2 linked regions of the Homo sapiens genome follow. The protein of the gene in region 1 purifies or fractionates together with the protein of each later gene. This does not show direct contact. Each region holds a gene or a part of one and is shown on either strand. Other genes may lie near its edges.

Region 1 (3,927 bases):
TGAATAACATATTTCAAAGTGCTCAGCCTTATCAGTAATTACGGAATGCAAATTAAGACAAAAACATGGTATTTATTCTGGGTAGACTAGCAAAAAGTAAGAAGTGTGAAAATAACGAGGATTTAGAGAGAATTGTGGTCGGTACTGGTGGCAGTATAGATTGGTACAACCACTTTGAAAACATTTCTGCTTTATCTTTGAAAGCTGAACAGCCCCCATAGCCTCTGATGCCGCAGTGCTAATCCTAGGTTCAAATTAGAGTCCAGCGCATGCACAGAAGGTGAACAAGAATGCTCCTACTAGCCTTATTAGTAATTACTAGGGGCAGATTCAGGTTTTATGGGGTATGAGCTTATATAATTGGAAAAGAGGAGGCTTTTAAAGAAAAAGATTCAGAATGATGAATACAAATTAGGTTCAAAAGTGACTAATTTTTATAATGGCAAAAGAAATTACAACAATTAGAAATGTCACAAAACCCAGGAAAAGAGTTCTGTTATAGGTATGTGACCTACGAACTTGGGAAGTCTGATACATTTAGTCTGTGTGGTTCCCATCAATAAAGAAAATACTTAAAGTGCATTTATAATCCTATCCGCTACAGTATTGAATACATTCCTGACAGGAGAAAACTTCCTTTTGACTAGGCAGTAAGAAATAAATGTTCTGTTACTACACGTAACAACTTGGATGAACCAAAAAAACAAATGTTGAGTGATAAAAAGCGAATTCCAGGCTATATGTATTTTTATAAAGCTCAAAAAGAAGAAAAATACACCAATACACAGGAATGCATCCAAATATGATAAAACCACTAAAAATGGCAAAGAGGGACAAAACTGAAGATAGTGGTGGTGAGCTAAGAGGCCAGGAGTAGAATCCTGGAGATGCATAGATACATGCTAAATACTGATAACGTGGTGGAGTGATAGTTTCATTAGCATACTTTAAATTTTACATATTTGGTAAATATGCTCTTTTGAATGCATCGACTATTACACTGAAAATATTTTTAAATACTTAAGGCACCTGAATATAAGCTGGCTTCCCTCCTTCCTCTCCCGTGCTGTCTCCTCTCCCCCATCACTTCTCAACTACAAGCTGCTTGGGACACGTGGCTCCAGAGGTTGGCAAAACAGGGAAATGTCAGCCCACAAGGAACAAGAACCGTGACTTGTGTTATTTTCTTGTTGGTGTTGGGGTGGGGGGAGGGGTGCGGTGGTGCAGGAAATATTATCCAGCTTATCATATATGCCACATCAAGCTGACTCCGTTTAAATTTTGAGTGGCTCTACTAGCTAAAGCCAGAAAAGGGTTTTTGGGCCCAACGGGCAGAAGTGCCCCTCCCTTTTACACTCACACTTCCCACTTTCTAAGGGTGCCAGGCCCCCGCGCCGCCCTCCTGCTTCTTTCCGGACGGTCCAACTCTTTTCCACCAGTCCCAGCCCATTCGATTACGTAAATTCTTCCAAGAGGATTCCCAAACGTGCCCCTCCGTCCAGAACTCGCCCAGCCCGGACCAGTTCCGAGATTTACCACCAGCCCAGAGCTGGGCGGGGGCGTGGAAAACGCGAGGAGCCTTCCCGCCCCTCTCCTTCTCCCTCCCTCCCTCCCAAGCCACTGCCGGCTCCCAGCCGAGCTCCGCCCCCGCGGTGGCCCCGCCTCCCCGCCGCCCGGAAAGCGGGCTGCGGCCCCCTCCCAAAACCCGGGGAAGTGGATTCTACTCTACGCTCCGCTCCGCTCCGCTCCGCACCACCAACCCCGGGCCGCAGTCCTGACGAGCGGGTCAGGGCTTGTCGGGCGGAAGCCTGGCCTGGAGCCTGGAAGGGGGAGACGGCCCGAGCGGGAGCGGGAGCGGACGCGGCCTCAGTCCTGCGCGGGTGAGCGTGCCCCGGAAGCTTGGGCCCCTGGCCGCCCTGGTGCCCCTTCTCCGGGACCTGGGGCGCTAGGCCGCGGCGGCAGAACTGGTGCCCCTGCGCGGCCTTCCTCCCATCCTTACAGTTCCCCGTGTCCCAGGCCTCTACCCGGAACCGGAGCCCCGCCCGTCTCCTAGCAGCTCCGTGACGTGAAGCGCCTCGGGGTGCGGTGCCGCCGGGCGTGGGTGGGAGGCAACGCCCGAGGGGAGGGCCCGCCAGTGCACGGGGGTGCGGGGCGCGTTGGCGAGAATTGGAGGCCGCGCCGCCGCCAGCCGTCCGCCGTCCCGCCCAGCAGGAGCACGTTCCCTTTCGCCATTGGAAGACTGAGTTCCAAGCTTTTTCCTGCTCACCTAGAGCCGTCCCTGCCCCGCCCGCCACCCCCTGTACATTTTCGGAGATTTAGGATAGTAATTCTAGACCCTCGGTTGCATTTCTGTTGGAATTTTTCTGGAAGTTGGAATCTGGCAGTTTAAACAAAGAATTTTTTTAAGAAAAATATTTATTAGTATATTTGATAGTCCCCAGATTAGGTTAAAAGCCTTATTCCCAATAACTGTAATTTTGCAAAGACATGTTTTTGGTGTAAAAAGGTATAGATATGGGTTGATGAAAAGAATCAAACTCTGAAAAATATTTGAAGAGATTTATTTTGAGCCAGATTCAAGTGACCATGGCCAGTGACAGTCCTCAGGAGGTCCTGAGAACATGTGCCCAAGGAAATTGGGGTACAGCTTGGTTTTATCTATTTTAGGAAGGCGTGAGACATCAAATACATTTAAGAAATACATTGGTTTAGTTTAGAAAGGCGGGGCAACTCAATCGGTAAATGTAAACGTTATCTGGTTGAGGTTATCTAAAGACCTGGGATCCATAAAAAGGAATGTTCAGGCTAGAGATAAAGGATTGTGGAGACCAAGTTTTATTGTGCAGAGGAAGCTCTTAGATAGACTTTAGAGAGAGCAGGTTGTAAATTGTTTTATATTGGACTTAAAAGGGTGCCTGGCTCTTAGTTGATTATCTCCTGGATCTGGGAAGGAAGGAGGGAAAACAAGGGGAGATGGGAATTCTCACCAAATGCAGATTTTTCCTGCAAGAGACTTTGCAGGGGAGTTTTAAGGTACGACAAGGAAATATATTTTGGGGTAAAACATTTTTATTTTCTTCCTTGTTAGGCCAGAGTCAGATTGGAAAGTAAGTCACGATATACAGGGTTAAATAAAACCCATCTGATGAGAATTTATGGTTTGTAGGGCATGACTCTCCAGACCCCTTAGAAAGGAATTTGGGTAAGATAAAAAATTAGAGCTTAGTCCTCGTATGGTTGAGAGCTTGTGCTCTGGATCCACAGTGCCAGGGTTGTAACACTTAAGAATTGTGTGAGCTTGGACAAACCACTTAATTTCTTTTCTTTTTTTTTTTTTTTGAGACGGAGTCTTGCTCTGTTGCCCAGGCTGGAGTGCAGTGGCGCGATCTGGGCTCACTGCAAGCTCCGCTTCCCGGGTTCACGCCATTCTCCTGCCTCAGCCTCCCGAGTAGCTGGGACTACAGGCGCCTGCCGCCAACGCCCGGCTAATTTTTTTTGTTTTGTTTTGTTTTAATAGAGACGGGGTTTCACCGTGTTAGCCAGGATGGTCTTGATCTCCTGACCTCGTGATCCGCCCGCCTCGGCCTCCCAAAGTGCTAGGATTACAGGCGTGAGCCACTGCGCCCAGCCCAAACCACTTAATTTCTAAGTGGCTCAGTTTCTTCTGAGTGTATATAATGTGTTTTATACACACACACACGTTTTTTCATTATGCTATGTTATGTATATTACTATATTATTTTTTCATTATGCTATACTATGTATATTAGTCTTGTGTATATTACTCTATGTAATATACCTAGTATAGCATAATGAAAAAATATCTGTATATATATATATTAGGCAATGCTAACTGCTTTACATGGTTGTGAAGATTAGGTGAAGCACTGTGCTTGGCATATAATAAACACTAAGTGTTACTTATGA
Region 2 (2,604 bases), on another chromosome or scaffold:
ACTTGGGTAGTAATTATAGGGTGTTTACAACTATCTGTTATACTTATGTAAGTTTTATGTGTTTATATTTTATGAAATATACAGTAAAGACACATTACAAATCATGTCTGTTGATAGATATCCATCTTTTCAAGCTCTAGTTTTGGGCATTGAAAAGAGATGAAACTGGCATCTCTGAGGTGCCTTTTGAACAGTGTCATATCTTTGGGACAAGAATTGGTTGCTAGGTTGACTCAACAGCAAATATCAGTGATGTTTCTGAAGAGACTGTAAGGCTGTATGATCCACCAAACCTTCTGCCTCTGCCATTCACACTCTTCTATTAAACACTTAGCAAGGCATAGTGGCTCATGCCTGTCAGCCCAGCACTTAGGGAGGCCAAGGTGGGAAGATTGCTTGAGGCCAGGAGTTTAAGATCAGCCTGGACAATGTAGCAAGACCCCATCTCTACATTTTTTAAGAGTCTATTTCCACAGCAAGGAAGAAATGAAAGTACAGCACCTGTCCCATTTCCCACAAAAAAGTCTTTGCCTAGGGTCTGCATATGTGACTGGAAGCTAAATTATTGGAATGAGCTTGTTTGTTTAAGGTTATTAAAGTTCTGGGTTCTTTGACTTCTAAAGTCACTCTGATATGTATTTGGAAGAGTAAATGTCTAGCAAATTGGCTTTATATTTCCTTTAGAGATCTAGCAAAGACCAAACCTGCTTTGGACCTCATCTGTGCCACAGTGCCCTTGGGGGATGGGCCACCTGTAGCAGAGGAATAGGAGCTGAGGCATGAGCTGATAAGTGGCATCACTTTAGGGCCCTCTCCAATCTCACCTGGAATGTCACTAATAGTGACCTATTTCTTTGGGTTCAAGCTTTTCATTTTCTGGGCCTCCTTTATATTGCAGATTCTTTTATTTTATAGATAGGTCTCACTATGTTGCCCAGGCTGGAGTGTGGGGGCTATTCACAGACATAATCATAGTACACTACTGCCTCAAACTTCTGGGCTCAAGCAAGCCTCCTGCCTCAGCCTTCAGGATAGCTGGGATTACAGATGTGCACCACTGTGCTCGGCTGCAGATTCCTTTTAGGAGGTGAATACATAATCAGTAATTTGCTAATGCCTTAGTAAAAACTTAGTGATGTGCCTGCATAGAGGGAAATCTATAATAGACACTATTGGGATTTGGCAAATTTCAATGTAGCCGTATATTTCCCATTTATGACAGCAAAGATTTTAACTTAATACCTCTTATTTAACTTAATACCTCTTATCAAAAGTTTTTTGATACTTAACATTTACCATCTTCTAGACACTGTGCTAGGCATTTGCTATTATCCCATTTTCATAATTTGTAAAAAGCAAATTTTGACCACCTCAGCCATTAGGATGGCTACTATCAAAACAGAAAATAAGAAGTGTTGATGAAGATGTGGAGAAATTGAAACTCTTTTACACTGTTGGTAGGAACATAAAATGGAGCTGCTATGGAAAACGGTATGGCAACTCCTCTAAAAATTAAAAATAGAATTACTATATGATTTAGCAATTCCACTTCTGGGTATGTACCCAAAAGGACTGAAAGCAGGATCTTGAAGTAGTTGTGTACCCATGTTCACAGCAGTATTAACAATAGCCAAAAGGTGGAAGCAACCCAAGTGTCCATTGATGGATGAATGGACAACCAAAATGTGGTACATACATATAATGGACTATCATTCATTCTTCAAAAAGCAGGGCTGGGTGGGGTGGCTCATGCCTGTAATCCCAGCACTTTGGGAGGCTGAAGCAGGAGGATTGCTTGAGTCCAGGAGTTTGAGACCAGCCTGGGCAACTTAGCGAGTCCCAATCTCCACAGTGGGGGGAAAAAAATTAGCCAGGTGTGGTGGTGCATGCACATAGTCCTAGCTATTCAGGAGGCTGAGGCAGGAGTATTGCTTGAGCCCAGGAGGTTGAGGCTGCAGTGAGCTATGATCATACCACTGCATTCCAGTCTGGCAGCATGGACAACAGAATAAAGCCTCATCTGTTTAAGAAACAAAACAAAGAAACCTGACATATGCTGCAATATGGGTGAACTTTGAGGACATTATGCTAAGTGAAATAAGCCAGTGACAAAAGGACAAATACAGCATGATTCCATTTATATGAAGTTTTTAGAGAAGTCCAATTTATAAAAACAAAGTGGAATATCAGTTACTAGGACTTGGTGGGAGAAGGAAATGGGGAGTTAATTATTGCTTAATGGGTACAGAGTTTGTTTTGCAAGATGAGTTCTGGAGATGGATGATGGTAGTGATGGTAGTGTCCAATCAACTTCTCAGTCTTCTCGGCTCTTACTACAAAGGAAGAAACTGTACTACCCAGATTTCTTTTTTAATAGAAATGTTATTTATAGTTAATAACGAATGCACTGCATAAAAACTTTATAGTTTCATTATTGTGAAATGTGTTCAAGATCCTACAGTAAAAGTGAAACATTCCCAAGGACTTGCGTTAGTGAAGACTACACAGAAAACCTTTCTAAGGATTTGTGTGGATCCGATAGATACTTGGCAAATTTTTGAGTTGTACATTCTTACAGAAAGTCCACTTAAAAGTGATCATTTG

What was found.
Region 2: the proteins of DDX59 (region 1) and ARG2 purify together in Homo sapiens (affinity purification with mass spectrometry; one large-scale study listed by BioGRID and IntAct). This does not show direct contact.

Annotation. Positions count from the first base shown.
Region 1 is NC_000001.11:200,667,720-200,671,646, reverse strand, and holds the start of DDX59 (probable ATP-dependent RNA helicase DDX59), read left to right. Parts: upstream 1-1,739; 5' UTR 1,740-1,880; exon of another isoform or gene 1,881-3,033; intron 3,034-3,881; exon of another isoform or gene 3,882-3,927.
Region 2 is NC_000014.9:67,627,321-67,629,924, forward strand, and holds part of ARG2 (arginase-2, mitochondrial precursor), read left to right. Parts: exon of another isoform or gene 1-2,020; intron 2,021-2,604. UniProt on the Homo sapiens protein: May play a role in the regulation of extra-urea cycle arginine metabolism and also in down-regulation of nitric oxide synthesis. Extrahepatic arginase functions to regulate L-arginine bioavailability to nitric oxid synthase (NOS).